Regions from separate parts of the Homo sapiens genome. Here regions 1, 3 and 4 are each linked to region 2. The links come from fine-mapping of genetic effects on gene expression. A gene starts in region 2. Each other region holds a variant in brackets. All regions are shown on one strand. Distances are from middle to middle.

Region 1 (8,000 bases), 88 kb before region 2:
AACAGAAGTAATTTAAAATGTTCAAGATATTAAATGCAGGACTGACTCCATATTGCCATTTAATATGCTTTGTATTATAGGATATAAAAACTAACCCCCCCATCTATGGAATGTTAAGCTGACACCCGAGACAGTCAAAGCCTCCCATAATTCAATATCCCACACTATTTTCTGGTTGTACCAAAAAATAAACAATCAGCAAATGATTTCACCTCTTAAAAAAAAGCATTTACACTTAAAAAATGGGATGAGGTGGGATACCCTCCTTCTTAAAAATGTTTCTAGAGCTACTAAAAAGCTTGCATTTACAAAATAGTTGATAAAAAATATTCCTCTGGATTGTACAAGAAGGGAGACAGGGACCACTGATAAGACATGGTATATGGTATTAATCAGACTCGGCTTCTTTCTCTCCTGCTTCATCAGAGGCTGGACTCTCCTCACTTTTCATTTCCCCGTTTTCTGCAGGTAAATCTTTAGTTTCTTAGTTAGCCACTTCGGCCTGTTTTCCCTTTGCTCCCTTTTTCCCTTTTGTTTGCACTTTTTTGTCTGAAGATTTATCCTTCACTGCTGCGTTTTTCGGCTTCGCTTCCACTTTTGCAGGAGGTTTAACTGACAACCGCGCCGATCTCCTCTTGGGCTTTTCCTTGGCGGCTCCTTCAGCAGAGCTGACCTTCCCCTTGGGCATCCTGGCGGCAGGGAGGGCGCGTGCCAGGTGTCTGCGGGCCGCGGCATGCTGACAGCCTTTGCGAAACTGTGCTGCCTGGCCGCTGCCACTCCTCACGCCCAGGATAGATTCTTTAGACAGTCTCAAGAAATGGAATTCCCAGGTCAGAGTGTAGTAAAATTGGTAGAACTGAATACATGTGGCCAAACTGCTTTCCCCAGAGGCTGTGCCAGCATGCCAGCACTTCTCATGCCCCTGCTGGTGGCTGGCAAGGCAACGAGGTCAATCTTTGCTTTGTACCTTGGCTGTGAGCTGGACCCGACAGAAGCATGTGATGAATCAGTGCAATCCCCACTGTGCCTCCTCCACTCTGCCCGTCACGTCTGGATAAATAACTCCATACACGCACAGTGGATGTGGGGGCAGCAACCTCTTACCATTGTGTGCAAAGCCCAGCATTTGTACTTACAAAGGGGAACTAGAGCCAACCCCCCTTAGCCAGTCAAGCACACTCCCATCCCCTACACCAGGGGTCCCCACCCCCTGGGCCATAGACTGGTACTGGTCCGTGGCCTGTTAGGAACTGGGCTAAATAGCAGGAGGTGAGCCAGCAGGTGGGAGAGCATTACCACCTGAGCTCCGCCTCCTGTTGTGTCAGGGGCGGCACTGGATTCTCACAGGAGCTCAAATCCTATTGTGAACTGCGCATGCGAGGGATCTAGGTTGTGTGCTCCTTATGAGAATCTAATGCCTGATGATCTGAAGTAGAACAGTCATCCTGAAAGCATCTGCCTCCTCCCCACTGCATGGAAAAACTGTCTTCCACGAAACTGGTCCCCGGTACCAACAAGGCTGGGGACCGCTGCCCTACACCAAGCCAAGCCACTCCCAAATGGCCTTGGGGTATGGTTCTTCCTTCTCATCTCCAACCTAAGATCTGAGGAGTACAAAACAGGGCTGACTGGGGGAGTCTTAGGGCATTGAGCTCCGCCGGCCAATAGGTCTGTCCCACGCTCCAGCTGAAATGGCCGGAGGGGCCCCAGCAGATAGGCAGCCTGTTCCCCACCTCCAGCCCTGGTCCAGGTTCTGGGGAAAATACTATCCTAGGTATGATCCTCTCTCTTCAGAGTTCACCTTAGCTGCCAATAAGCAGACACCAGACACGCCCCCAAGAGCCTCAAGGTTGGAGCAACAGGGACACACATGTGCTAAGGCAAAGGCTGGTTCACTGTAATTGGAGGCCAGGAAATAGAGGAAAAAGAGCTGAAGAGATGAAAACCACAAGCATGCAATGTACTATAATATTTAAGCCTCACAACAACCCATGAGGAGACTGAATTAGGTTGAATGGGGTCCCCCATAAAACTCATGTCAACCCAGAACCTCAAGATAGAACCTTATTTGGAAACAGGCTCTTTGCAGACATAATTCCTTAAGATGACATTATACGGCTGGGCACAGTGGCTCACGCCTGTAATCCCAACACTTCAGGAGGCAGAAGCAGATGGATCACCTGAGATCAGGAGTTCAAAACCAGCCCGACCAACATGGTGAAACTAAAAATACAAAAATCAGCTGGGAATGGTGGCAGGCACCTGTAGTCCCAGCTACTAGGGAGGCTAGGGCAGGAGAATCACTTGAACCCACGAAGTGGAGGTTGCAGTGAGCTGAGATTTCACCATTGCATTCGATCCTGGCAACAAGAACACAATTCCATCTCAAAAAAAAACCCCCATAAAACTAAAAAACAAAGTGAACACTCGGGGTAGAGGATTTGACTGCAAAGTGAACACTCACACAGCACTGCACTATGCAGGAACTCTCCTCAGAACTTCGTTATGTATTAACTGATTCAATTCTTACAAGCCTGTGAGGTTGGTACTATTATTATTCCCACTTTACAGATGAGGAAGCTGAGGCGACCAGAAGGCTAATGAACTTGCCTAAAGCCATGGAACTAGTAAGAGACCAAATGAAACAAATGAAAAGCAAAGAATAGCATAGTGGCTGCTGGCTGGGCTGAAGAGTAGGGAAGTGAAGCCCTGGGGGGAGGCAGGAGGCTGGGCTGGCCTCACCGTCAGTCCAGGCCTCGTGGATGGAGGCCTTCTGCCGGAACTTCTCTGCCAGGTGGTCCAGTCGCTCCAGCCTCCGGATCTCATTCAGCAACCACTCCTCATAGCCCTTCTCCACCTGCTCCAGGCAGCCCCAGGCATTGTTGATGTCCTGTGGGGATGGGAGGTACAGGGTCAGGGTCTGGCTTGGGCCTAGGCTTCAGGTCCCCTAGCCCCCTAGACCCCTGAAGGTGCCCCATGCCTTCCAGGAAGAGCCTCTTCCCTATCTCTGCCCCATATCCACCCTAGCCAGGCTGCCCCACCATACCTCCCATCTCCCACTGGTATTTTCTGGGCTCCCAGGAGCCAGGCCTCCTGGGCAAGGCATGGGACCTGCATCTACATTGGTCACCCAGCTATGGGACTTTGAGAACAGAGCCCTGTGGGGAAAGGGCCCCAGACTCTCCCTGACTAGGACTGGTTTCCCGCAGGACTCTAACCGATCACAGAGGTCACACATGTGCTAAGGCAAAGGGCCCCCGAGGTAAACAGACCAACAATGTGCAATGAGGCAAGCAGGCACTGGAGCTGCCCAGCCTCCCCACTGTCCTGGATCCATTCATGGACTCAGGCCTCTGGGCAATAACCTGGAGCCTACAGAGACCCCGGCCTGGGTGAGCCGGCCAGAATTCTGGGAGGACAGATGCTGAGTGCAAACCCACACGCCCCTTCAGACAGGGCCATGCCTCCAGTTTGTGCAACAGTGCCCAGCTGGACAGTCACTGGGGCTGCACCCTGCAAGCCACCCTCCCCACATGTCCCCAGGCCAAGCTACATCTGTCCCCCAGAAAGGGTACTTTGTCTAATTCTCATAGAGCACCCTTAGGCTAGCAGTGGCTCTGGCCACCTAAAAGCTACTGATTCAGCCTTGGAGCCCCGAAATGACTGCAATTTTCCAAACTGCATACCCACTTGCAATGTATTCTCCCTCCATGACCCCCTGGGCTGCCGTCTCCCCACGATGCTGTCTGCCTTTCACCCTCCCCTTCTAGACCTGTCATGTGCCCATGACACTCCTGTTACTTTTCACTTAAGGACAAAAAGCT[G/C]CGTCATGGCAAATTTCTTACATTTTCTTCTGTGTGTTTCTCTGGCTTATGAAATTTTTCCCTAAGTTGTGGGGACAGGGTCAAGAAGGATGAATAACAAAAATAACCTAAAAGAAGAGTATTTTATGACATGGAAAGCTGGTCAGAATATAATGTAAGATTGGGGGTTTTCCTAAAGCAGCTTATTATATAAAACAGGCTTTAGTTATCTGTCAGGGGACACTTGAGTACAGAAACCGGGAAAAAATGTTTAATTTCAAATACATATACTTTAGGATTCCCTCAAATATTTACACGAAAAAACCAAAAGGATTAAAATCATTTTTTTTAAAGTTGATACTGGGTAGTAAGATTTTCAGTAATTTCCATGTTCTGTATTTTGCTTATTTGTATCTTTGAAATATACTACCCAAAAAAACCCACAAAACTATTACTTCAATAATAATATTTTTTAACTACTTAAGATTCCATGGAAGTAGAAATCAACTTGACTGCGATTCAATTATGCCCTGTTTGGTTCAGGGTGTCAAAAGCATTGTGTTCATAGGGATGATTTTTTGTGAGAGGGAGGTCTGGAGTAGATGCTCAGGGGTCTGGAAGGGCAAGCCTGACCCAGAATGGTCTGGGCAGAGGGGGCTGCCCCACATGGCCGAGTTTGGGATTGAGCCTGGGTGGTAACTGGAAGGGGGAAGTGACTTCTGGAGCAGTGTATGTAGGTAGAAGCAAACACGCCCATCCGCACCCCCATAAAGCTGAATTTGACCACAACTAGGAGCAGCTCAGAGGTGGAGGCAGTCCAGTCTGGGGGCCCAGGCTCACCCCCAGTGCTCACCGAGACCATCCTGCCCTCAGAGGGCATGAAGGCAGGCCGGTTGCTGAGCCGCAGCTTGGTCTGCAGCGTGTTGAAGTTGATCTCCAGCTGGCACTTCTCCTGCACCTTGGGCGGCTTGTGCAGGCGCCGGTAGTCCCGGAAGTCCTCCAGCTTCTGTTGCATGGCATGCATGGTGTTCTCGGGCACCCGGTTCTCCAGCCACGGGATTGTGCGGCGGATCCACTCCAACAGCTAGGGTGGGAAGGCGGTGGGGGCAGGAGGTGAGGAGGCGGGGAGGGAGTGTGCTAGGGCCAGCCTCCCTTTCCTCCCAACAGCCCTCCCACATGGGGAAGGGGTCTCTCCTAATAGCACACTCCTTCCCAACCACTGACATTCCCAGGCCATGAAGTCAGCTTCCAGGGTGTTCCCTCTGAGAACCACAGGCTTCGTGAAGCCTGGCTACTAGGGTACATCGACTCACAGTCACGTCACTCAACCTCCCTGCTTTGCTAAGGGAAGACCCATAGACCTGGTGTGAAGTTAGTGCAACTAAAAGGCAGGAAGGAAGCCTGGGTTTTAGTACCAGGTTCTAACTGGCTGGGCCTCAGTTTCCTCATCTATACCATGGAGGGGGTTAACAGCTATTTCCAGAAGTTCTTGCCATCTGACTTCCTAAGAATCTAGAATGTGGGTCTCTGACTTAAAAGGGAAGAGGCTGGCTTCTGGGCAGAGAGCTGGCCTGGAGCACAAGCAGGCACGGCCTGGACTGTTTTCCTTGGGCCAAGGTGATGGTGGTGGAGAAGGTGGAGGGGTGCACATGACAATAGGAATACACTGAACACCTGCAGGGGGCCAGGCACATCACACACATGGACTCATCTGAATCACCACAGAAACACTACAAAGCTAAGGGCTGTGATCACCTGCATGTTACAGAGGAGACAACCGAGGCCCTACCAGGTCCTGTAACTTGCCAAGGTGACCTGGCTGGAATGGCAGAAATTTAAACCCAGGCACTTGGGCTCCAGAACCTGCGTTCTTACTATGCTGGGCAGCAGATCCACCAAGAGGCTGGGCTGAGCAGCTCAACGGGCTGAATTCTTTCAAGAAGAGGAGGCTTAACCTAAATGTAGCCAATGGCAGAACAGGAAACCCAGCACTGTGCCATCCTGTTCCCTGAACAGTAGGGGACAGCCGCTACTTTTGGTAGCTGTTATGCTAGCCTGAGCCGGCACTAATTTACCGAAAACCCTACCCTCACCCTCTTAGAACCAGATGTGCTCCTTTTCTCACTGAAGCAAAACTCACAGACTAAGAGTACACTAGGCTGGAAAGGCTTTGACATCCCCTGGCTCAACTCTCACTTGACAAGTGAAAAAAACAAGAAGACTCTGAGAGGCAAAGGGATATCCTAGGCTCATGATAACTCAGGGACTGGCCTCTGCCCCCACCTCACTACTTTCTGGGAGAGCCACAACAGAGCTCAGGCTGCCCTGGACTAGCAGTATTGGGATCAGAGACTATACAAGCCTGAGACTATGCTCCAAGGAAAGACTTGGAGGTACACGTTCTAGGGGACTGACTCTTGCTAGAGTCAGGCCAGGTGAACCCGGGGGTACCCACATCACTGGCCAGCTTCTCGTAGTCTTCCATAAGCTGCTCGTTCTCCTGGTTGACGGCCAACACCTTGCAGATGCGATTGGCTGCTGTCTCCGCCTGGCAACAAGACAGAGAGAGTCACGACCAGCCAGCCCCAGCAGCAGGGGCACCTGGTACACACCTGTGCTGACAAAGCCCCTCCCATCCCTGCAGCTCCCTGTGGTTGGAAGGGAGTTAAGAAGGCTGTGAGGTCACATTCCTCCTCTCTCCTTACCATCCTCCTTGCCAGCCCATGGCCAGGTCCCATGGGTCAAGTGAGCCTGGACAGAGGTCTTGGTGGCTGAACTGGGCCCCTGGAGAACAGCCTGAGTTTAAGGCCCAACCTGCAGGTTGGGAAGAAACTAATCCAATGACTGATATAATCAAAATACTCAGGTCAGGTGGAGAGGTGAGAAAATTCATGCCCATCCTGGAATTCCAAGTGGAGGCACTGGAACTGCAAGGCTTAGGACCTCTGGCTGGATTTTCCAGGGTCTTGGAGATGTGGGAATTCAAATCCGGGAGTCCTGGGATAAAGTGCTGACTGAGAAATCATGGGACCTCTTGGGATCCCTGCAGAATCTCCCAAGGCTCTTGGCCCAAAGCCTGAAGCACTTTAGAGAAAACTGACGGACATTCTACTGCACCCAAGTCCAGACTTCCGGATCAACCAAGTATGGGCTCAATGCCCAGCAAACCCAGCACAGGCCTCTTCCAGACAGCTAAGCACACATCATGCGCTGCGTGCTGGGCTAGCAGGGACCCAAGATGGCCTCAGCAGCAAAGGGAAGGAAAGGGGACTGAATGGCAATCCCAGGCAAAGACTAAGAAACCTTAGTGGGAGAGCGCCTTCTGCAGCTGTGGGGGCTACTGTACCCCTAACACCAGCAGGGACCCAGCATTCCTGAGTCCACTTCAAATAGGTGGTTTTAAAATCCAGCTGTGTTCTTGCATACATTCCAACCCTACACCAAGGGGGAAGTGAACTCAAAGCCTTTTGGGGGCCAGAGGGTAGAAAGGAAGACAGCCTGGGGGTGGGAGAAGATGATATCTGTGAGAAGACAGACATGCATCCTGAGACCCTGGAGAAGGGTGCCCTGCAGATGAAAAATGATCCCTGGATTAACAGGTTGAAAGACAGGACCTCACAACTGGTTGATGAACAAGACAAAACAGGTTTCAACTGCAGCAAGATGAACTGAGGCTGGTTGTAAGGAAGAGCTTCCTGAGAATGAACGTGCTTAGAATTGGAAGGAATGACTAAGATGGAAGACGGAAATGTTTTTTCCTTGAAGAACTTCTCGAATCCGCCCACCAAATCATGTGCTTTGTGGATGGATGACTATGCTGGGGTGTGTGGGGCAGGGGGTAAGGGGCAGAATGAGATCATCCTAAAGGCCTTGTCAGAAACACAGTCAAGGAGGTCAAGGGAGGCATGACCTGCAGAGCAAGGTGTCAGAATGGGTTGGGAGAACCAATAAGGAGAAGGTGGGAATGGCCAGAGGGTGGTCTAAGAGTCCCCTGAGGTGGGGACTTTGAGTCCTGGGCCTCAAGAAACTGAGACAGGGAGTCACATCCTTAGGCCCTCACCCCCTGACCCCAACTCAACCCTGTCCTGGAGATGCCATGACTGCTTCTCACCCACAACTCCTGACTGATCGCCATCTCTCTCGAGAACCAACAAGCACCCACGGGGAATCCCAAGAAGCAACGAAGAGGGAAATGCT
Region 2 (8,194 bases):
AAAGTAGAGGAAATGCCTCTAATCCACGTGCTCTGTCTGGAAGATAACTGCATTTTGTGTCTGGAGGCATGGCGACCAGCCCATGAACTCCGTACCGAAGCATTCTTTGAAAGAGGGACAAGCCTCGGCCAAGCCAGTGCAGCTTCTTGAGTCATGCCTCCTGCCTGCACAGACTTCTCCCTGCCTCCACATCAGGCCATACTTTCACCAAGGAAGCACTTCTCAATGCATCATTTAACCTGATTCCCCAGAAGAGTCCTGAGGGCTCCACGGGCAGAAATGTGTCCCATTTACAGAGGAGGAAACCTAATGGAAATGCCACAAGAACGGGAACTTGGTCTGTCTTGCTCAGTGCCCCATCCCTAATACCTGGAACTGTGTCTGACCCAGAATGAGTGCTCACAAAGTATTTGCTGAATGACCTAATAAAAGCTCGATGAAATGGAAAGACTTGCCCAAAGTCTCAGAAATAGCTATGGCTGCACCAAAGCTAAAAAGAGGGTCTTCTGCCTTCTACCGGGTGACCTTTGTATCCCTCTACACTGTGTCCTCCTCTTCCCCTCCTCACACTCACTCCCCTGCCTCCCTCTGGAACCATCAGCCTCTGTCCACTTGTGGACTCTGGTCCCACACAAACCCCGCCTCCCAGTCAGTAGAAAGAGTGTCAAAAGCAACACGTTTACCTTACGTCTTATCCCTCACCTGTAATACCACCTCCTTAATATCACCCTACTGAGAACTAGGCAGGCCAGAAATTCTGCAGACTGAGGCCCACGAAAGATAATCTAGAGAATTAACAGGAAACAAACAAACAAAAAATGTGGATCTGAATCTTCAGAGTCAGGCCCAGAGCTCCTTCTGCCATGGCCCCTCCATCAACCCCGCCCAAAGCACGTGTCGGCTCTCCTGGTTCCCAGATGCTCTGGCTCTGGCTGCGAGGCCCAGCTTTCCTGCCTCCCTTGCCAAGGAGGGACAAGTGAGGGGAAGCTGCCAGTCCCAAACATGGCTGCATCCCAGCCCCACCAAACACAGTCTGGACTTGGAGCTGGTTACTTCCCCTCTCTGGCCCTGGTTTCCTAGTCCTTGTTCGTGCCTGGCACATATCAGCAAATGCCAGTTCTTGGCACTGTTGAGTTTGCCTCCAGGATAACCCAGTTTCCCAGACCACCTCTTCCTACCTGGCTGCCCAAAGGCCTGGGGCACACCCACTGCCACCCAGGTCAGAGCCCTGGGAATCTATATTCTTCTCCCCACTGCGTTTAATATATTCATTCATTCAGAAATATTAAATACGATGTTCAGGCCGGTGCTCAGTGTCTGTCCCCTAGGAACTTGGTCTCACAGTCCTTTCAGGGGCCTAGTTCCTAGGCAGCTCTGTTACTCCTGCCCCTCCCAGGCACAAAGCAGGTGCTCCCTAAGCAGGGATTTCTCCTTCGATTCTAACCCCCAGGGAAGACCCCAATCCACCACCCTAATCTCACTTCTAATTTAAAATCCATTCTCAAGAAGGCTTCACCCTGAAATTATTAAAGAGCCTTCTGCCTGGTGCCCCATAGGGATCTCCAAATTACTCACTCACTTTTCAGTTCCACCCACAGCACCCATGGTCCCAGGAAATAAGCCAAGTGAGTGGGGGACTGTCTGCAGCCCCCAGTCTTCAGCTCTTACTAGGAAGATGACAGGAAGAGGGGGAGTTTAAGCAACTGGCACATTACAAAGAAGTCAGTTCGAAGTCAGGGGACCTTCCCATGTCCGATGTAGATGACCGATGTCGCTGTATAGGGCCCAGCCCTGCATAGGCCTTGGGCACCGCGGCCCAGGTCATCCTGCTTTGAGGAAGCCCATTGTGTGTGTTTTAGATTACCTCTGCCTGTCTGATGAAGTGAGTAAAAGGGCTCCGTTTCAGGGCCTAGGATTCCTGAGTGAGCTAATACAGGATGCCTTTGGCTGAAAAAAAAAACTTCAGTCGGCTCTATAAACTACCCCCCTTTTAAGTTTAAAAAAGGGAATGAATGTTACCATTTTTGGACATGAGCGTTCTCCCTCAAGCCCAGCCCTAACCGCACTATCCAAAGGGACGCGCCATCCTGTCCCCCCCCCACCCAAAACCCCATTCCCAGATCAGCCTGGGGGTGGGGAGGGTATGAAACGGGGAGGGACCGGATGGAAGTGGGCAGCCGGGAGGAGGGGGAGGGAAAGGGGTATTCAGGGTACGTGGCCGCCTGGGGGCACAGGCTCACCGCGCAGGCAGGAAGCAGCGGTAGGGTTGAGGCGCCCTCCCCCCACCACCACGAGTGGTTTCTGACCTCTTCCTGCCACTGGCCACTGTGCCCGGGTCCCATCGCCAGCTCCGAGCCCAGCTCCCGTGGCGGGGCGCGCACCCGGCACACCGCGCCTGCCTGGGATGCAGCTCCGTGGCTAAGTAGGGATCCCCAGTGACTGGCCCCAAATATCCCCTAAGACTGACCCTCGTTCTGCAGCCCCTCAACTCGAACCGAGCTGCCCACCTTTCCCGGGGGTCGGAGGGGCAGGACGTAGCGCAAGCCCATGTCGGGGTTACAGCTTCCAACCCACTGAGTTAAGCAATAAAACGGTCTGCTGTCCTGACCCCGCCCCCACAGGGCCCGCGGGGGAGCCCGCGTACGCCCCCCAGTTTTCTCGTCCCCAGCCGCACTCCAGCTGGTCCTTCTCCAGGCAGATCCGGAGGCGGCCGCCGATCTCTCCGGCGCTCTCCCCTCCGCCTAAGGGGCAGCAGGGTCCCGGGAGGCCCGCCGCTCAGGTTGAACCCAGGGCGGCCCAGGAAGCGGCGCTGCCACCGCACGCCATATGGAGAGGTGGCCAGGGGCGGAAGAAAAGGGAAAATCGATCCGGAGCAAGCAGCCCCGAGCCGGGGTCTCAGCCCCAGCCTGAAGACCACCGCCCCCGAGCACAGCCCACGCGGGGATGGTTGCAACAGCCGCAGGGTGGCCTGGACCACGGACCCCCAAGGAGACCTGCCCGCCAGCGGCGCCACCTCCCCGCGCTCCGGCCCGGCGTTCCCGGGCTCCGGGGCAGGGGCGCTCCCGCTTCCGCCAGGCGCCTGTAACCCAACACCCCACCTCGCAACGGCCGCACCGCCCCCGCCCCCTCCCGTGCGCGCCCGGAACCGGTTCAGAGCCCGGAGCCGAGAGCCCGGCAGGCAGAGCGGGTCGGGGCTGGGGGCTGGGGGCTGGGGGCTGCAGCGGGCGGGGGCGGCTGCTAACCTTTCTCTGCTGCTTCTCCCAGGCCGGGTCCAGGAGCAGGTCCCGGTCCCAGTCCTCTTCTGGCTGCATGTAATCGTTGGTTTGCTGAGAATCATAATGGTCCATGATGGTGCGCGCGTGCTAGGGTCTGGATTTCTTCCTCCACCTTCTCTCTGAGCAACGGCTGCTGCCCTGGCGTGGGGAGGGAGTAGGGCTGGGCTGGGCTGGGCTGGCGGGGCCGGGCTCGCTCCCCTGCGCCCGGTTCCGCCGCGGCGCTGCTGGCGAAGGCTGCTACTGGCGGCGACAGCGGCGGCTGGGCTCGCGGACTGCCTGCCTCTGGGCGGGCGCTTGGACCTAATCTCCACGCACACTGAACTAGGCGGACACACTAGCGCTGCGGGAGCCGAGGCGGGCGGGGGCGGGGGGAAGGGGCAGAGCCCTCCCGAGGCTCTCCATTGGCCAGGCCGAGTTGCCCAAACTTCCCCCCATCGCCTCTCATTGGGAATTCCTGGCATCCGTCAGCCGGGCTGCGGCGCATATAGGTGGACTGGGCGGCCCCCTCCCGGCGCGCACACCCCCGCCCACTCCCGCGGTGCCCGTTCCCCCGCGGCTCATGTGACGCCAGCTTAAGCTGAACGGGACCGAAGCCGGGAGACGCCTCCCCGAGCTCGGGGACTGAGTGGCAGCGCGCTTGGGAACCCCAGGAGCCGCCGGGATTGGACCCGTTCCCCGCCACCGTTATTGCGCTCCCACGCGCGCTCCAAACCCCGGGGTGGGAGGGGGCTGGAGAAAGGACGCGAGGAAACCCGAAGAACATTCATTTTCTCTTTCCCAGGGAACCTGGGTCTGGGCAGGTCGGCACCCTAGGAAAGGGGGCGGAGTGGGGCAATGGAAAGGAATTTCTTGGGAATTTCACGACTCCACCGCCGCCCCCCCCGGCCCCGCCCCACCCCACCCCACCCTACAAGGCGCGACCCGGCTGATCCCTGCCCTGCAGGAACCCGGTTTCTCGCCAGCGAACTGCTCTCAGAGGCTACCGAGCGTTCCCGCCTCGCCGCAGGAACTCTTCTAGCTCGCCCTCGGGCTCTGGGGACCGCTCCACAGCGGGGCCTCCCGGAATTCCCTGCCGGTCTCCGCGGGCACACTTGGCTGGCTGCTGCGACCAAAACTACCTTCGCGTGGCAGGGTCCTCCCTCCTCCTCACAGACACCCCGACATCACCCTCAAAACTGGAAGGGACAACCCCGAGTGATCTAGGTAAATCTACTCCGTACCCCCCTCCCACATACACACGCCTGACAGATGGGGAAACTGAGGCTCAAAGAGCCGAGCGCGGAAAGAGCTTCTGGACTTCACAGGCCAATCCGGTAACCTTATGCCTGACAAACAAAACCTTATTGTCATTGGAGGAGGATGGAGGGCGGGAGTGACTAAATAGCTCTAACTTCTGCTTGCCACCTGCCAGGACTCCTTTCCCTGGGCTTAGTAAGAGGAGAGTCTAAACGCGCTAATGCCCGGGAAGGAGCAGGCCTCGCGTTCTGGCAGGCTCCTCTATGGGATCCCGGTTCCGAAGAACAGTAGCAAATAAACCTCTCCTAGGTTATGCACTGTCTTGTGAACAACAGATGTGCCAGTCTTCCACCCCAGCACCCAGCACATAGTAGAGCTTAATTTATGGATTTGAGGCTGGCCACGGTGGCGGTGGCTCACACCTGTAATCCCAGCACTTTGAGAGGCTGAGGCGGGCAGATCGCTTGAGCCCAGGAGTTGGAGACCAGCCTGGCCAACGTGGCAAAACCCCGTCCTTACTAAAAATACAAAAATCAGCCGGGCATGGTGGTACACGCCTGTAGTCCCAGCTACTTGGGAAGCTGAGGCGGGAGACTCCCTTGAGCCTGGGAGGTCGAGGTTGCAGTGAGGTGCATTTTCACCATTGCACTCCGGCCTGGGTGACAAAACAAGACTGTCTCAAAATATATACATACATATATGCATTTGGCCCTTTATATCCACAGGCTTCAGAACCCGCAGATACCCAGGCTGACTGTGAGGGACTTGAGCATCCTCAGATTTTGGTATCCATGGGGATGCTGAAACCAATACCCTGCCAATACTAAGGGAGGACTGTATTTGTAGGATGAATGGCTGCATCAACTGCAAAAATTTAAATTTAAATTTAAATTTAAAATGCAAATATGTCAATTCAGAAGTGAGTGAAGGAGTTAGAAGAAGAAGTTCACTGACAGGAAGGGCCCTGAATTATGGGCTGGATTTTGTCCTCTACCTTCTCTCCAGGCGATGGTGGATACCTGAAAGCCACCCATGGAAAAGGTGAAGAAAGTGCCCCCTGGTTCTCAGAAGAGCCACTGCTGCTGTTGTGAGCAGATATCGGATGGTGTCTCTGGCTGCATCATTCGTCAACCACACATATTCATATGAGTGTTACCCTCCAGCACTGTGCCTTCCAAAAGCCCCTGGCTGAGGAAGCACTGCTTCTGAGCCACAGAGACAGCTGATTTATGGACCATTTTATCACCGCTTCTAAACTGTGGCTCTAAACCTAACACAGAGGGTAATGGTAGTGCTGTATCCATTCATTCACCCAATAAATATTTGCTGAGCACCATCTGCATATCAGGGAATGTACTAGATGTATACAGAGATGAAAAAGCCATAGTCCCTGTCGCACACAGCCCAGCAGACAGACACAGAAACAAAAATATGATGTCATGAGTTAGACGCAAGGAGAGAGATCTGACAAGTGTACTGTTGGAACAGATGAGGGGCACTGAACCCCGTGGGAAAGGAGGCTCCAGGCTTAACTTTTTGGAGGAGGTGAAACTTAAGTGAACGTTAAAGAATGAGAGTCAGCCAGATAAAGAGTGTGGGAAGTTACTCCAGAAGGAAGGACCAGCACAAGCTAATGCACAAGGACAGGAAACTGCATGGTATACAAAGGAATGTCTAGCATCTCAACGTGGCTGGACTAGAAATCCAAGGCCGGGAGGGGCAAGAGACGGGGCTAGAGAGGTGCAAAGCAGCCAGACCATGAAGGCCTCATGTGCCAGGTGGAGTGTGGATCTAAGGGGAGCAAGGCTGGCTGGAAGCTTTGACACCAGTTGCAAAGCTGTTGCAATAATCCAGGTCGAAATGGAAAAGTGTGGATAGACCAGAAATACTTAGGGGATAAAACTGAAAGACCTAGGAGTCTGGAGAAAAGATAAGTGTTTTTGTTGAGAGATCCCATGCACTTTACCTATATTAAGTTCCTCCTATGAGGTGTTTCTCTGTCTTACAGAGAAAACAAACTGAGGCTCAGAGAGGTAGTAACTAGTCCAAAATGGCACCAGTACATGTGACTCCCAGACCTGTGCCTTTAACCCCAGTGGTTCTCAACTCTAGGATATTTTAACAGCTCCCCCTCACAAGGGATATTTGTTGATGTCTGGAGTCATTTTGGGTTATCACAGCTGGTGGGTTCCTACTGGCATCCAGTGGATGCAGGTTGGGAATGCTGCTAAACGTTCTACAATGGATAGGACAGCATCCCCACAACAAAGAATTATCCAGGCCAGGCATGATGGCTCATGCCTGTAATCCCAACACTTTGGGAAGCTGAGGCAGGTGGATCGCTTGAGGTCAGGGGTTCGAGACCAGCCTGGGCAAGGTGGCGAAAACCCGTCTTTACCAAAAATACAAAAATTAGCTGGCCATGGTGGTGTGAATCTGTATTCTCAGCTACTTGGGGGGCTGAGGCAGGAGGATTGCTTGAGCCCAGGAGGTCAGGGCTGCAGTGAGCCATGATTGCACCATTGCATTCCAGCCTGGGTGACAGAGCAACACTCTGTCCAGAAAAAAAAAAAAGAAAGAAAGAAAGAATTAACCAGCCAAATATGAAAGAAAGAAAGAATTAACCAGCCCAAAATATCAAGAGTGCTGAGGTTGAGCAATCCTGCTTTAATCATGAGTTTATAGTTTAGATGATCTGGGGAATGGTGGCACTATGACCAATTAAGATAGAACAGAAAAGGAAAATATTTAGGAACAGAATCATGGATTGAGTTTGAACACATTGAATTTGGAGTGCTCTTAGAATGTCCAGATTCCATAGACCAGCAGGCAGTTTGACTGCATAGCCCTGACCTCAGGCAAAACAGAGTTGAGAGTCATCTGCATATGGATGATATTAACACCAGGAGACCACCCATGAAGAATGCCCAGGTGGACATGAGAAGAGGGCAGAACCCTGGAGAACAACACTTAGAAAGGGACAGCAAAGAACAAGAACCCCTGAAGGAGACAAAGAAAATGGTCATCCAGGAACGAGGAGGGCCTGGAGTATATGACGTTGAGGAGGTCAAAGGAGTAAGGTTTCAAAGTAAGAGGAATTGGCAATATCAGATATATTCAAAAAGTCTGGAAAATAAGGCCTAAACAGTGTTCTTGGATATGACAGTTGAAAATTCACTGGTGACCTTGGCCAATGGAATTTTGGCAGAGTGGCAAAAGCTGTAAGTTTAAAGAGACATTAGGAGTGAATAAATGGAGACTGAATATAGAGGGGAAAAAGAAGTAGCTAAAGGGGCAATAGCTAGACGCAAGTACTGAGATCAAAGGAAGATTTCTTTTAAAACTGGAAAATGTGAGCTGTTTGAAAAGAAGAATTCAGTTAAGAGGAAAAAGTTGAAAATGTAAGCTAAAGAAAGTTAAGGGAGCCAGGTGGAGTGGCTCACGCCTGTAATCCCAGAACTTTGGACGGCCAAGGCAGGTGGATCGCTTGAACTCAGGAGTTCGAAACCAGCCTGGGTGACATGGTAAAAACCTATCTCTACCAAAAATACTAAAAATTAGCCGGGCGTGGTGGAGTGCACCTGTGGTCCCAGCTACTTGGAAGACTGAGGTGGGAAGATTGCTAGAGCCTGGGAAGTCTAGGCTGCAATGAGCCACGATTGGGCCACTGCACTCCAGCCTGG
Region 3 (8,000 bases), 87 kb after region 2:
TTCAGTGAATGAGAAAAGTGCCAGAGGCCTGGAACTTGTAACATAGATAAACATGTTATCATTTATGAACTTGGGATAAATTCAAAGTTTCCACTGCACTGGTAATGGTATCACATCCATCCAGAACACATGCACATAAATTCTGATCAAGTTCCTTCTGAGCAATCAGACAACTCAGGACACACAGAGAAACATGTGCATTTGGCTAACTGGCAAAATGTGTTGCATCCAGACACAAACAAATGAGTGTTCATTTATCTACTCAAGGGATCCCCTCTTAGTCCCTACCAGGAGCATGGCGCCACTAGGCCACAAAGTATCATTAGACAGTCTCTGCTCCAAGTGCCTCCTTCCACTCCCAACTCCACCTTGTTCAAACACTCATTCCAAATATTTCTCAATGTCTGTGTTTGGAGGGAAAATGACTACAACAATGTCCCTTCCCCAGAAATAATATGGCTCTAGGGGTATCTTCTGCTTTTGGCCCCCTAACACAACTCTTCTTTTGTCTCATGGAAGAGATACCTCCTTATTGCCACGTACATATCTTTTTTATGACAGCAAAAGGTTCCAGACTGCACCCATCTACTCACTCAGCCAGCTTTAGGTGCTCAATCTATTTGATGGGTGACAAAATTTTTCTCCATATTTGACAATAATATTTGAATTGTCCAGAATGGAAAATATATTTATCGTATTCATATCTCAGCCCAACATCAAGTTTGCTAATAAACCATAAAAAAAGAGAGGGACTAGGACACAGGATTAGTGGATTTTTCATGGAGAAAGAGGACAAGGAAAAGTTAGGCACTGATGTAGACTGCCATGGTGGGAACCCCTAGCACTGGCTTCCTAAGGTGGTATGAAAGGGAAGCTGGGCCAGTCAAAATGAAAATAAACTAGAGAGAATTAGGGAAGAGGGATAAATAGGAATCTAAAGAACCCAAAAATAGTTGTCTTGACAGAGAGATCCTACCATCCCCAAAAAGTTCCTTTGGGTCTATTTCTTCTAGATAAGGTTCATTATGACAAGTAGCATTTCTGCTCATGGGTGTCCTCTGAATTTTACTTTTTTAACATCCTACTTCTACCTCTACTCCCACTGGGGTGGTTAAGCAAAGAAACTTTGATTTAAATCTAGTAACAGTCTCTTGTTTAATCCTACTGCCTCAAAAAGAGGGGGGATGTGGGGGGATTTAAGTGACTTATCCCAAGTCATAAAGCTAGAAAATGGCAGAGCCAAGATTTGAACCAGAGTCTGGCTACAATGCCTAATATGCTTTCCACCATATCAGCTGCCTTTGGAAGATGGAAGAGTTTGAATAGGAATGGAGTTAGAAGCTTACATTCAAAAGATTTAGATTTCTAAATCTTTCAGGCAGTTATTAGATAGGTGGTTTTCTTCTGAAGTTCTAAATTAAAAGGAGGGGCACTGTATTCAATGGTATCCTGAGCACAAGCTCTACAGCATTACCATAAGCCATTTCATCACACCACTGACACTGAGTACATGATGAGAATAGAACTGGATCTGTCTTACCTACTCTTGCATACCTAGAACCTGGGGTGCAATGTCCAAAGTCCACCAGGTGCATAAATACTTGCTGAATGCATAGTGTTTGAAAAGAAAGCAATTTTAGAATAAGTATGTCAAAAGAAGACAGCTGGAAGGTCTCATATAAAGAATCAGCTATCATAGAACTAAAGTGCATCAACCAAACCAATCTTTCTGACTTGGAACACAATTAAAGTAACTATCAGATCTAAAGACTAATTGAAGGCTATCAATGCCTGAAAATTCAGACCATGGAAAAACTGTTTCTCTTGCACTTTCATGCAATATGACCTCTTTTTTTTTTTTTTTTTTTGAGACGGAGTCTTGCTCTGTTGCCCAGGCTGGAGTGCAGTGGCTCGATCTCGGCTCACTGCAACCTCCACCTCCCAGGTTCAAGCAATTCTCTGCCTCAGCCTCCTGAGTAGCTGGGATTACAGGCATCCACCACCATGCCCAGCTAATTTTTGTATTTTCAGTAGAGACGGGGTTTCACCATCTTAGCCAGGCTGGCCTTGAACTCCTGACCTCATGATCCACCCGCCTCGGCCTCCCAAAGTGCTGGGATTACAGGCGTGAGCCACCACACCCAGCCCTGATTTTTCTTCTTGGTAGCAATTTTAACACAAGGTCTTTTTTGCCCTTCTTTCCACCCATGCTGGTACCTAGGAAATCTGAAAAAGAAGAGGGAATCAATAAACCCAGAGACTGATGGTGAAAATAGGTACAGGCAGAATTATAGTGGCCATTTGTTTAAGGTAACCAAGACTGTGTACAATCATAGCAATAAATGGCTTCAGAGAGGTTTTTCATAGTTTCTTTCCTGGTTCCCAGGTTTGATATTATTGAATATAGCTGCTACTGAACAGTTTACGTACAATCATTTTTTGAGATTAGTCCTAGAAATTTGTATAAGCCAGATAGCTTCTCCTTTAATTTGAAATAGCTAAAGTCAAAATGCCAATATCAGAAAGAATCTAGGGTCTCCTTTCCTCTGTCATCTAATCAGACCATGCTGGTCAATAGTAGTATCAAATTGGAAGGAGACAGGAAGGGCATATTTTTATCCAAGAACTATATAACCCACATAATCTCCCTTCAGGGTCATCTCTTAAGACTGTGGGTAAGGGCCCAGGTAAGGATCAACTTCACCCCCTGGTTGCTGAACTAAGTCCTGACTGAATCGCTAATAATGGGTACCCATAAATAAAATACCACATACCCAGGAAAAAGGATCTCATTCCTGAGCTGCCATTTGTTTATAAAATTCTGTATAAACCAACAGTCATTTCTCTGGGCCATCTGCTTTGGTTGGCTTAGCCAAATGTGCTGACACTGTTTTTTTTTTTTTTTGAGATGGAGTCTTGCTCTGTTGCCCAGGCTAGAGTGTAGTGGCATGATCTCAGCTCCCTGCAACCTCCTCCTCCTGGGTTCAAGCAATTCTCCTGCCTCAGCCTTCCGACTAGCTGGGATTACAGGCGCACACCACCACGCCCAGCTAATTTTTTTGTATTTTTAGTAGAGATGGGGTTTCACCATGTTGGTTAGGCTGGTCTCCAACTCCTGACCTCATAATCTGCCCGCCTTGGCCTCCCAAAGTGCTGGGATTACAGGCATGAGCCACTGCACCTGGCCAGCTGACACTCCTTTTTAAGTTTAGTTCCTAAGTTGAGGCCAAAGTCCCCATATATTAATCTTTCTTTGATTTAGAAGAGATGGTAGGGGGGTAGGGAAGACTATAACCATATCTATTGCAAGATCTCAGAAAAGAAAATGAGAACAAGGTATCTCACAGAATTTCAGTATCAGTAATCCACTTACTACCGTAGGGGACCCCAGGATCCCAGGGGAAAACACCTTGCTCAAAA[T/C]TCAGATAAAGATCTTTCTAAATGCCAAGGTCAAATGTCTCCCTAGAGAAGACTAAGGGAAATGTGTATGTCCTAATTTCCCTCCCTTCTCTACTTATGGCCCACTTTCATAACATTCAGCCAGGGGTTTATTGCCTCAGGCCTTTGAAGAGCCAGAATACTATTCCCATTTCTAGCCAATTTCAGTTGCTTTTGTTTAGTGTCAAGTTCATTTGCTTCATGAAGTCCTCCAAGAATGAGTACGTTTTTGACTCAAAAGCTGAAAGCAATGTGGTCAAGATTTCTTGATGTCTTGGTCTAATAGCAATTTATCAATCATGCTGGGACACTGTCCTCAATACCACTTCCCGTCTTCCTCTGTTCTACTTTTTCTATAGCACTTCTAACCTTTTAAACATACTACATAATTTACTATGTTTATTGTTCATTGTTTCCCCTGCTAGAACATAAGCTCCATGACAGCAGGGCTTCTGTCTCCACTGTATCCCAAGTCTCTAGAACTGTGCCTAGCACATAGTAAGGTTTTTAATAAATATATGATGAAATGAAAAGATGTGAGTGTATTAGATGGTGGAACACAAGCATGCAGGAAAAAAAAATCTTCACATATGGGCTCCATCACCCAATAAATGTTTCTTTTTTTCCATCTTCCTGCAGCCGATTTCGTATCTTTTTTTTTTTTTTTTTTTTTTTTGAGACAGGGTCTCACTCTGTTCCCCAGGTTGGAATGCAGTGGCATGATTTTAGCTCACTGCAACCCCCCGCTCCCAGGCTCAAGCAATCCTCCTACCTCAGCCTCCCTAGTAGCTGAGACTATAGGGACATGGCACCACACCTGGCTAATTTTTTGTACTTTTTGTAGAGATGGGGTTTTGCCATGTTGCCCAGGCTGGTCTCAAACTCTTGGGCTCAAACAATCCTCCTGCCTTGGCCCCCGGAAGTGCTGGGATTACAGGTGTGAGCCACCTAATCCAGCCCAGATATTCTTTTTTTTTTAAGATGGAGTCTCACCAGGCTGGAGTGCAGTGGCGTGATCTCGGCTCACTGCAACCTTCACCTCCCCAGTTCAAGCGATTCTCCTGCCTCAGCCTCCCGAGTAGCTGGGACTACTGGCACGCACCACCAAGCCCAGCTAATTTTTGTATTTTTAGTAGAGATGGGGTTTCGCCATGTTAGCCAGCATGGTCTCAATCTCTTGACCTCGTGATCTGCCCACCTTGGCCTCCCAAAGTGCTGGGATTACAGTCCTGAGCCACTGCACCTGGCCCAGATATTCTTTTACAGCATTTTTACTATAATGTAGTTAAGCAGGAGCAGAGAAATAAAGGGGCTGAAATCCTATCTATCCTTCAGGGTCCTTTGAAATGCTAACTGCAGGAAAACTTTACCAATCTTCCCAAATCTCTTCAAGACCTCCTTCATTATCTTTTTTATGGGCCTCAGAAGCCACTTTTACATCGAGTGCATATGTCTGTGTGTGTGCCCATGCACATCCTTTTTTCATCTCTGTTATATTGGAAGCTCTCTGAAGGCAAAAAATGTTCATTTTTCAGTGGCCCATAGAGCTTTACATGATGTCTTATCTAAGGATACTCAATAAGTGAACAAATTGAAGTTAAAGCCCTCATCATCCTCTCTGGAATAAAGCTTGAAGTTAAAGTTATCTGCTAAAATGAGGTTTGGTAAGTAGATTTAAGACAATCTATTTCATTCTTGACCCCACTGGTAGAATTAAGAGTTTACTGCAAGGGCCAGATGTGGTGGCTCATGCCTGTAATCCCAGCACTTTGGGAGGCCGAGGCAGGAGGATCACCTGAGGTCGGGAGTTCGAGACCAGCCTGACCAACATGGAGAAACCCTGTCTCTACTAAAAATACAAAATTAGCTGGGCATGCTGGCACATGCCCGTAATCCCAGCTACTCAGGAGGCTGAGGCAGGAAAATAGCTTGAACCTAGGAGACAGAAGTTGCGGTGAGCCGAGATCATGCCATTGCACTCCAGCCTGGACAATAAGAATGAAACTCCATCTCAAAAAAAAAAAAAAAAAAAGTTTACTGCAAGGCATAGACTATTTCTTTTCCTGGTACATCTAAAAAAGGTATCCAAGCCTCTTAGCATTTCAAAAAGGCCCAAGTGAACAGTTGCAGGGTCTTCCAGTGTCAAACCATAAAGAGGACCATCAAGGATACTGACAATACGGACAGAGCAGTGACTGCCTCCTGGAGACCACATAACTACTTAAGAAATGAGAAAAGCCAGATGGGGACAGCCAATGCTGTCAGTACAGCTCAAAGAGCTCCACAGGCATCAATGCTTAGTTGCACAAAAAAGTCAGTTATGCTGAGTTCTTCTTTCATCATATGTGCCTCACATGTGTTTATAACCAACTACTTGCAACCAATTAAAAACAGCTGTTTTTTCCAGTTACATGGGAGGAAAAAGCAGATACCTAGGCCTAAGTCACTGAGAGTGAATACATGTCTAGAAAAAGAAGACAGAGCACACAAACATATGCAGGCCCAAAAAAATGCATTTACAGCTGTTTCCAGCCTACTTCATCAGCCTACTGCCAGTGGGGGTGGTTACAGTGACTCGGCAGTAAAAATACATGTTTTTCCCTTCCATTCAGGGAAAAATTTGTCACATAAGAGAACCCTCCTGAACTACTGATGAGTCAAGGGCAGCCTTCATGCAAGAACAACTCAATCAGCCATTCCAGGTGGGTAGCAAGGAAGGACAATGTCTTGATCTCTAAGGAGTTATTAAAAGGTGAGTTTAAAAAGGGAGAAGGCCTTCTTTTTCTTCTTTTGTAGACACGGAGTCTCATTCTGTTGCTGAAGTGTGCAGCCTCAAATTCCTGGGCTCAAGCAATAGTCCTGCTCAGCCTCCTGAGCAACTGGGACTACAGGCATATGCCACCATGCCCAGTTTTCTTTCTGTTCTCTTTCTTTCTTTCGTTCTTTTCTTCTTTCTTTTTATTATTATTATTAGAGACACAGTCTTGCTGTGTTGCTCAGGCTGGTCTCAAACTCATGGGTTCAACTGATCTTCCCGCCTCAGCCTCCCAAAGTGCCAGGATTACAGGTACGAGCCATTGTGCCTAGCAGCAGTTAGTTTTAAAAAAAAAGTTTGTGAAGACAGGTTCCCACTATGTTGCTCAGGATGGTCTCAAACTCCTGAGGCATCAAGCGATCCTCCCACCTCAGCCTCCCAAAGTGCTGGGATTACAGGCATGTGCCACTGTGCCCAGCCGAGAAGGCTTTCTTAGTGAGGAATAACAGTCGTTGAGTAGCTACTAAGTACTCTCACAATAATCCTAAGAAAGTATTATTGTTGTTGGTGGTGGTATTATCCTTATTTCACAGGAGTTTGGTAAGATTAGGAAATTTTTCCAAAGCCCCCAGTTGGAAGATAAATGGATCAGGAATTTAAAGCCATTCCTAACAACTCTATCACATTATGCTTCTTTCCATAAATAAGAAGGTCTTAGAGTAAGAGGTAGCTCTGGAAAAGCAACTCAACCTGTGAAAACCCTAAAGCCCTTTCTAACAAGAATTCAGGGAAAGAGAAGGGAAAGGCAATATAAATATTTTCAAGAGACACCTACCAACCTTTCCCACACATTGCCAAATCCATTACTTTCATACCTAACTTACTAGGGAAAAAATGCTTTGGAAATGATGGATCTACATCGATCTTACTATACATAGCAATAACAATGTCTTGTATTTGAATACACATTGTTTTCAGAAAGCTTCCAAGATTATTAAATCAACACACAATATAAGGCAGAGGTAGGAGACATTTTATGTAAGAAACTGACGCTCAGACAAATACTATTATGTAACTTGCTAAGAATCAGACATGTAGTTAGTGGTAGTTAAGTTCAAGTTAGAGGACTTGAATCCAGGTATGATTTTAAGTCTAATGCTCCTTTCAATATGTAACACTGGCTCTATATGTAACTGCTGGTCTACTTATTTTATTTTCAGAATTACCACATAAAAACAGATGCCCTTCCTACCTACTTTAGAGGTCTTAGACATATTCCAATGGACTTCTTCTCTGCCACAGCAAAATTCCCAGTTCTAGTTCTATTCCTTCCTCTAATTTTTATTTTTCTTTTTTTTTTTTTGTTTTTCTTTTTTGAGACGGAGTCTCCTCTGTCACCCAGGCTGGAGTGCAGCGGTGCAATCTCGGCTCAGTGCAACCTCTCCCTCCCGGGTTCAAGCGTTTCTTCTGCCACAGCCTCCCGAGTAGCTGGGATGATGGGTGTGCACCACTACACCTGGCTAATTTTTGAATTTTTAGTAAAGACAGTGTTTCACTATGTTAGCCAGATTGGTCTCAAACTCCTGACTTCAAGTGATCTGCCCCCCTCAGCCTCCCAAAGTGCCGGGATTATAGGCATGAGCCACTGCACCCGGCCCCTTCCTTTAATTTTTAAAGGGATTTTTAGAATGAGTTGTTTGAAATTACTAAAAAATTGGACCTGATCTTCCCTGGTAGCAAGTTTTATAGTGGATATAGGTCTTACATCTTGAAATGATCTCCTCAGCCCACTAGGAAGTCCTATTGG
Region 4 (8,205 bases), 29 kb after region 2:
TCCTGCTGCCACAGGGTGAGCTGGTTAACACTGGGAGGGGATTGGGGGAAGATGATAGACCGATAGATAATAGATTGATAGATATAGATAGATACTGCTCCTGTCCTTTCCATTCGCCCCCTTGAAATTCTACCCTCAGAAATTCACCTTTAAGGAATGAGAGGAATGTAGCTGCCTCTTCCAAGAGACCTCCCAGCCTCACCTTCCCTAGCCCAGATTGGTCTCTCCCTCAGCTGAGATTCATCTTCATCCTCCCGGCCCTCAGCCCTTGCCTCCTCCAGCTCCTGGCCATCCTCTCATCCCAAGGGTACGTCCTTCGGCAGCTGGGCTCATTTATTCCTCACACTGGTTTCTTCTAAGTAGGGAAGTTTCTAAACCTTTCTGTGAAAAAAGAAAGAAATCCTGCAGGGAAAGGGGTTCAAACAGGTTGTACAACCCATCCCCAGAGTCTGATTCACTTGGTGTGGGCGTGTGCCTGAACTCTGTATATTAAGCAAACACCCTGGTCTTACACCGAAGACCCTCTGCTGACCTTATGAAAGAGACTGTGTAAGAAATGCAGATGCCTGGGCCTCACCCCAGAGATCCTGATTCCACTGCCTCTTCCTTGCCTTGTGGCTTCACCCACTTCCAAACCCCCTGATTCTGGTGTGCTGCCAGGGATGAGAGCCACGGACTTACCGGGTGCTCAGGGAATAAGCATTGACCTGAATGAAGCTGCTGGGTTGACACAGGCATCCTTCCGGGAGGGGTGAGTCATTCAGCCATGCTGCCAGCTGTGAACAATTCAGTCTGGGGAAATACAAAGAGACGTGGTCCCTCTCAGAGTTTCCATTCCCACATGGAAAGCTGGTGCTGGGAAGTGGCTGGGCAGCCAGGCTGGGCGCTGGGAGGAGTGCAGGGTGAGGATGAGAGAAGGGCTGTACCCACACTATGCTAGGCCGACTCCAGGCACTGGCTGTGTCCAGCTGGTTCAATCTTTCCAGCAAACCTGCGAGGAGGGATGTCATAGGTGAGGAAACCAGGTCTGCAGAGTTGAGGTGTCTGGTCTTGAACCCACGTGTGTCCTAACCATGACATGGTCCTCCTCCAGGAACTGTGCGGGGGCAGAAAGAGGGCTCAGGGATCCAGCCTCAGGCATTGGCCTCAAGGGATACGGTGGCAGGGGTGTCTTAGAAGCCTGCTGACCAAGGGTTAGGATCTCTCCATCAATTGGTGGCTGAGGGTGAATCCCACCACCTCCGCCCTCCACCCATCCTCTGTGTCTCATTCCACCTACTCTGGCCTTATCACCCCTGCCAGACTGTGAGATCCAGTGGAGGGGCCAGGCCAGGCCCCTTATCCACATTTATTGCTCACCCCCACCTCCCCAGTTCGGGGCAGGCCCTCAGCAAATCAAGTGCTAGGGCTGTGAGTAGCGGGAGAGTTCTGAGGGGACCCAGGGACTGCAAAGTTAGAGGCAGCCCGGGGTTGGAGAGGCAGCATAGAAAAGCCAGTGGTCCAGAACACAACCTGCCCAGCCTCGCTGAGTGGCCCTGGGCTGGCCACTTCACCTGCCTGTGCCTCAGTGTTCTCATCTGTAAATGGAGAGATTCATTGCACCTCACTCATAGCATTGCTGTGAGAAACAAATGAGGTAAAGTACGCAAGGCGCCTGCTACGTCACAATAAGTACATTATTGAAATACTGTTTGAACCCTGGCTATCATTATTGTCACCATTATGTTGTTACTATTATTGGTGCCTATTTCCCAGTTTGGCTCTGGGCAAGCAGTTACAGGCACCAGTTACGGACCTTGGACTTTGAGGTGGGCTCCTGTCCTGGACTTTTCTGGTCTTCTTTCCAGTCGTGGGGATGGTCAGGCCAGGTGACATTTACAGTCAAGGACCTTGGTGGATGTGGGATTTGGAACCCACTAAGCCAGTGGCGCTCAGCCTTGGATGCCTGTTAAAATCACCTAGGGAACTTCAGAAAATCCTGATTTCCCATTAAATAAAAATCTCTGGGGGTAGGACTCAAGCATCAGGATTTTGTAAAGCTTCCCAGGAGAGTCCAGCAAGCAGTCAAAGTTGGGAACCAGGGCTCCAAGAGAATTTCTCATTCACAGGAAAGAAAATCCTTTGGCAGCAGGAGACTGGGCTTGGGAGTTAGAGGAGTTTAGCCCTTGACCTATCAGCTACAGGACCTTGGGTAAGTTACTTACGATCACTCAGACTCAATTTCCTCATTTACAAAGTGGGGGATGGTACCCACCTAGCAGTTAATGAATAGCATTAAACTAAAGAGGGTGTCCGACACAATAGGCATTTAATATATATTATTATTATAGTCCTTAATGGGTTATCCTTCTAATATGTCCAAGGAGATATTACAACACACACACACACACACACACACACACACAAATCAGTGTTCAAATTCTGTTTCCAGGCCAGGCGCGGTGCCTCACACCTATAATTCCAGCACTTTGGGAGGCGGCCAAAGCGGGCGGATCACCTGAAGTCAGGAGTTCGAGACCAGCCTGGCCAACATAGTGAAACCCTGTCTCTACTAAAAATACAAAAATTAGCCAGATGTGGTTACAGGTGCCTGTAATCCCAGCTACTCTAGAGGCTAAGGCAGGAGAATCACTTGAACCTAGGAGGCAGAGGTTGCAGTGAGCCAAGATTGAGCCACTGCACTCCAGCCTGGGTATCGGAGCAAGACTTCATCTCAAAAAAATAAAAATAAAACCACAGTGCTGTGGCTGTTCTGGTGGAAGGGCTGACCTGGTACTTTGGGAAGTGGCAAGAGGCCACACCCACAGAACCTGCCTGCCATCCTGGGCCAGGACTACTGTCTGAGGTGAGGGTGGGAGCTGAATTGCAGGGAAACTATCATTCAAGCTTTTGCCTTAACAGACAAATTATGGTGATGGCTACCTTTCCTGAGTTGCCACCATATAGCAAGCATATTACATATTCTCTTGTTAAATTCTCCCAACATCCCTAAGATTTAGGTATTAATGCCCCTAGAGGGAGTATCTTTGTTCATTATTCAAAAATATTTATTGAGGGGCCAGGTGCAGCGGCTCACATCTGTAATCCCAGCACTTTGGAGGCCAAGGCAAGAGGATCAGTTGAGCCCAGCAGTTCGAGACCAGCTTGGGCAACATAGTGAGACACTGTCTATATATATATATATATATATATATATATATATATATATATATATCCCTTGCCATGTGCTTGGTCCTTTTTAGAAGCTGGGAATTCAGCAAAGTCAACAAAGCCCCTGCCTCATGGGGTTTATGGTCTAGTGGAGAGGACTATATTCCTTGAATAATCACAGGTCAATGCAGCAGAAGGTTTTTGGCAACATGCCAGATTGCACTGTTTCAGACAGCCCCTCTCTCATTACTATAAAAATGCTGTATAAAATACAAGAAAAACACTTGAACATACAAAGCTGAGCTCAAGAGAAAGGAAAACCCCAGATTCCAGAAATAGTTCCAAGAACTCAAAGCCAGAAAATGGAGTGAGAGCTAAGCCTCCGGTTTGTGAGGTTTTGACTAGATATAGGCCCTAAGGCCTAGAGCCCAGAGTTCTAAAGCCCCTTCAAAAACAGGAGGCAGCCCCAGGCTGTTTGAGGCAGGAGAGTTGGAACTGATCCAGCTGAATACAGCTTGGAGCCTTGAGGAGTATCCCAGTCACAGAAAAGAAAGGCTGGAAAAACTACCAACTGGGCCTGCAGAAGGAGCAACAGTTTTCTCACTGTAGAAGTCTTGGGTGGGAGAAAAGTTCACGTGAAAGATGGAAAGGCCAGGCCTCCCTCACTTGGAGGAGAGAGATGGACTGCTCCCGCCTCATCCCCTGCTTTGGCATGCCACTGGTCCCAGGATTCCTATGCCAAAAAGTTAATCTAAAAGTTAGTCCAGAGGCCGGGTGCGGTGGCTTACGCCTGTAATCCCAGCACTTCGGGTAGCTGAGGCAGGCGGATCATTTAAGGCCAGAAGTTCGAGATCAGTCTGGCCAACATGGTGAAACCCCTTTTCTACTAAAAGTACAAAAATTAGCCAAAGGTAGTGGTGTGCCCCTGTAATCCCAGTTACTCGGGAGGCTGAGGCAAGGAGAATCAACCTCACCCAGGAGGTGGAGGTTGCAGTGAGCCAAGACCATGCCACTGCACTCTGGCCTGGATGACCGGAGACTCTGTCTCAAAAAAAAAAAAAAAAAAAAAAAAAAAAAAGTTAGTCCAGAACCTAGGGCCCTGACAGAAGCAAAACCCAAGGTACTCTGTACATTTTCACAACCCAGCCTCACAGGCATTCCACAGCAAAAACAACCTTCCACTGGAAATGAGTTTCCCAATTGAAAATTACAAATCACACAGGGAAACAAACCACCATAAGAGATAATCAGTAAATACAAAACCAAAGCCAAACCAAACCAAACCAATCAGAATTCATCCCCTAAGAAGCAGGAGTAGTAGAGAAACCTGAAGTTATAAAATAAATAGGTTAAATAATTCTAGAGAATTTTTAAATAGAAAAGAAATAATAATAAGAAACAAGATAATATTAAAAAATGTTGGGAAACAAATCAAAC[A/G]AAGTTCTAGAAATGAAAAATACAGCTTTAAAAATTATTTAGGGCTGGGTGCAGTAGCTCATGACTGTAATTTTACCCAGCACTTTGGGAGGCCAAGGTGGGCAGATCACTTGAGGTCAGGAATTTGAAACCAGCCTGGCCAACATGGTGAAACCCCTCTCTACTAAAAAAATACAAAAAAATTAGCCAGGCATGGTAATCCCAGCTACTCTGGAGGCTGAGGCAGGAGAATTGCTTGAACCCGGGAGGCGGAGGTTGCGGTGAGCCAAGATTGCCCCATTGTACTCCAGCCCAGGCGACAAGAGCAAGACTCCGTCTCAAAAAAAAAAAAAAAAAAGGATTATTTATTAAAATTAATGGATTAAACAGCAGAACAAGATGGAGCTAAAGACACGCTTAGCAAACTGGGTGATGCCTCTGAAAAAAATCACCCTCTCAGCAGCACAGCAAGAACAGTATGGAAGCAATTGTGGCTAAGAGACATAGAGGGAAAAATGAGATCAAAGAAGAAATGAGGAAGGAGCAATATTTAAAGAGAAAATGGCTGAGAATTGATCAAAACTAAAGAAACACCTAAATCTTCAGTTTAAATAAGCATCTGAAGACTTAAGAATACATAACACAAATTCACACCTTAGGAATGTTAAAAGGTAAACTGAAGCACATTAAAATGTTAAAGAGTTTATTTGAGCAAATAGCAACTCATGAATTGGGCATCTCTAAAACAGAGGGTTTTATAGGGTGATTTTAAAATAGACTTTTTTTGTTTGTTTGTTTGTTTGAGATGAAGTCTCCCTCTGTTGCCCAGGCTGCAGTGCAGTGGAACAATCTCAGCTCACTGCAACCTCCACCTCCCAAGTTCAAGTGATTCTCATGCCTCAGCCTCCCAAGTAGCTGGGATTGCAGGCGCCAGCCACCACACCTGGCCAATTTTTGTATTTTTGGTAGAGACAGGGTTTCAGCATGTTAACCAAGCTGGTTTCAAACTCCTGACCTCAGGTGATCTGCCTGCCTCAGCCTCCCAAAGTGCTGGGATTACAGGCATGAGTCACTGCACCCAGCCCTAAAACAGAGACTTCAAAGCAGGCTTGGGGCTCTGCCAATGGGGTACAAGGGGAAGGCTTTTATAGGGTGAATGCAGAAGAGAGCAAAAAAATTATTTGACTGGTTAATGTTTGAGCAATTGCCTTATTCAGACTATCCTATGGGAATTTCGAGATGATATAATATACACCCAGTTGGCCACCTGTGATTGGCTGAACTTAAGTTTCATTTTCTTGTTCTTTTCTTTTTTTTTGTTTTGTTTTGTTTGGTTTTTGAGACAGGATCTCACTCTGTTACCCAGGCTAGAGTGCAGTGGCACGATCACAGCTCACTGCAACCTTCGCCTCTTGGGCTCAAGTGATCCTCCCACCTCAGCCTTCTGAGTAGCTGGGACTACAGGTGCACACCACCATGCCTGGGTAATTTTTTTTATTTTTTGTAGAGCCAGGGTTTTGCCATGTTACCCAGGCTGATCTTGAACTCCTGGGCTCAACCATCTGCCTGCCTCAGACTCCCAAAGTGCTGGAATTATAGGTGTGAGCCACCACACCTGGACGGTTTTATTTTATTTTTAATTTTTTTTATCTTTTTAAACATTTTCATTATTTTATTTTTTGAGTAAGGGTCTCACTCTGTTACCCAGGCTGGAGTGCAGTGGTGAGATCGTGGCTTACTGTAGCCTTGACTTCCTGGACTCCAGCGACCCTCCTGCCTCAGCCCCCCAAATGGCTGGAACCACAGGCATGCACCACCATGCCCAGCTAATTTTTGTATTTTTGGTAGAGGTGGGGTTCTACCATGTTGCCCAGGCTGGTCTCAAACTCCTGAGCTCAAGTGATCCACCCACCTCAGCCTCCCAAGGTGTAGGTGTGAGCCACTGCACTGGGCCAATTTTCTCTTTAATTTTGAATTAGGATTCAGTTTACTTACATAAGAACCTAGGACTTTAAAACCACCTCAGTCTAATGACCTTCTACTTAATTATTTTAATGGAAGCTCAGTGGAAAATCGGGAGAACAACAAAGATAAACAGATAAATAGTACAAAGTGCCATAGTTCTATGAAGAAGGGAACACAGCCCCCAGAATAGCATGTAAGTAAGGACGGGGGAGCAGATGAGGTGCCCATCTTCCCCAGAAGCCAGGGAAGGTGTGATGGTTAGTTCTACCTGTCACCTTGGCTAGACTGTGGTACCTAGTGGTTTGGTCAAATACTAGCCTAGTGGTTCGGTCAAATACTAGCCTAGATGGTGCTATGAAGGTATTCTTTATATGCGGTTAAATTTTTTTTTTTTTTTTTGAGGAGTCTAGCTCTGTCACCCAGGCTGGAGTGCAGTGGTAGAATCTCTTCTCACTATAACCTCCGCCTCCCAGGTTCAGGTGATCCTCCTGCCTCAGCCTCCCGAGTAGCTGGGACTACAGGCATGTGCCACCATGCCCAGCTAATTTTTGTATTTTCAGTAGAGACAGAGTTTTACCATGTTGGCCAGGCTGGTCTTGAACTCGTGACCTCAAGTGATCTGCCTGCCTCAGCCTCCCAAAGTGCTGGGATTACAGGTGTGAGCCATCGTGCCTGGGCTATATGTGGTTAACTTTTACAGTCAGTAGGCTTTCAGTAAAGCAGATTACCCTCCATGATGTGGGTGGGCCTCATTCAATCAGTTGAAGGGCTTAAGAACACAGGCTGAGGTTTCAGAAGAAATTCTGCCTCAAGATTGCAACATCAAACCCTTGCCTGGGTTTCCAGCCTGCTGCCCTGTGGATTTTGAGCTCAAGATTGCAACTTCACTCTTAGCTGAATTTCCAGTCTGCCGACCTGCCCAATAGATTTGGGACTTGCCAGCCCCCACAATCACATGAGCCAATTCCTTAAAATCAAAATCTCAATCTCTCTCTCTTCATATATATATTTAGGCAACCAGGCTGATGAGGCTGTGAGTGAGGCCTGAAGGCTGAGGAGGTGTTAAGTATACACAGAGGAAGGGAAGGGGGAAAGCTCTGTAGAGAGAAGTAATGGCTCATGTCCAGGCAATGAGTCTGGAGGTAGAGCATGCAGAGCCTTGAAAGAATTGGAGGCTTTTCCCCAGGAGCAAGTGGAAGCCTGGTGGGGTTTTAAGTGGGGTATGTCCACAGTGCCAGCCGTGCCAGGGCTCGGGTTCTAACCCATGTCTCCTTGGCCCCAAGTCCATGCCCTGTCCCAGCACCACCCACCTCCCTCCTAAACCAGTGGAATATTTGCTGTTATTTGTTGGTCCAGCTTATATTCTGCCCTTCCTTTGAAAGCAGGGCCCAGCTTTGATTTTTAGGGGGAATCCTTCTCTCCTTGTGCACAGTCTTGCTGGGGCTGTCATTCCAGCTTCCTCCCCTGGGACTCTGAGTTCTGAGCAGAAAGACCCAAAGATGGAATAAGCAAGTGTGGGGGGCAGCAGCTGCTATGAGAGTGGTGTGAAGCTCCTAGTTGACAGGTTTGTCTCCATTACATGCATACATACATACACACACACACACACACACACACACACACACACACACACACACATATATATGTATTTTTTTTTTGAGATGGAGTCTCACT

Evidence for each region. PIP is the estimated chance that this variant, and not a neighbour inherited with it, causes the effect.
Region 1: its variant is fine-mapped to the expression of ACTN1-DT in sigmoid colon (GTEx, PIP 0.96).
Region 3: its variant is fine-mapped to the expression of ACTN1-DT in breast (GTEx, PIP above 0.99).
Region 4: its variant is fine-mapped to the expression of ACTN1-DT in whole blood (INTERVAL, PIP above 0.99).

Annotation. Positions count from the first base shown.
Region 1 is chr14:68,887,397-68,895,396 of GRCh38, forward strand. ACTN1 (actinin alpha 1) reads right to left here. Exons shown (of 22, transcript NM_001130004.2): 9 at 6,259-6,351; 10 at 4,657-4,887; 11 at 2,743-2,890. It also overlaps the pseudogene HMGN1P3. Among named protein-coding and RNA genes, the nearest start is that of ACTN1, 88 kb to the right of the region's middle. RefSeq lists an enhancer at 3,118-3,618. The variant G/C (reference allele first, on the strand shown) is at 3,825.
Region 2 is chr14:68,975,710-68,983,903 of GRCh38, forward strand. ACTN1-DT (ACTN1 divergent transcript) reads left to right here and starts at 3,973. Exons shown (of 4, transcript NR_073422.1): 1 at 3,973-4,075; 2 at 4,219-4,478. ACTN1 (actinin alpha 1) reads right to left here and starts at 3,593. Exons shown (of 22, transcript NM_001130004.2): 1 at 3,243-3,593. The coding sequence starts at 3,347. RefSeq lists enhancers at 2,461-3,460, 3,461-4,459 and a silencer at 3,601-3,650.
Region 3 is chr14:69,063,248-69,071,247 of GRCh38, forward strand. All of the region lies in intron 7 of DCAF5 (DDB1 and CUL4 associated factor 5), which reads right to left. Among named protein-coding and RNA genes, the nearest start is that of DCAF5, 86 kb to the right of the region's middle. RefSeq lists enhancers at 3,373-3,422, 3,513-3,612. The variant T/C (reference allele first, on the strand shown) is at 3,421.
Region 4 is chr14:69,005,124-69,013,328 of GRCh38, forward strand. No RefSeq gene overlaps it. Among named protein-coding and RNA genes, the nearest start is that of ACTN1-DT, 30 kb to the left of the region's middle. RefSeq lists an enhancer at 1-945. The variant A/G (reference allele first, on the strand shown) is at 4,588.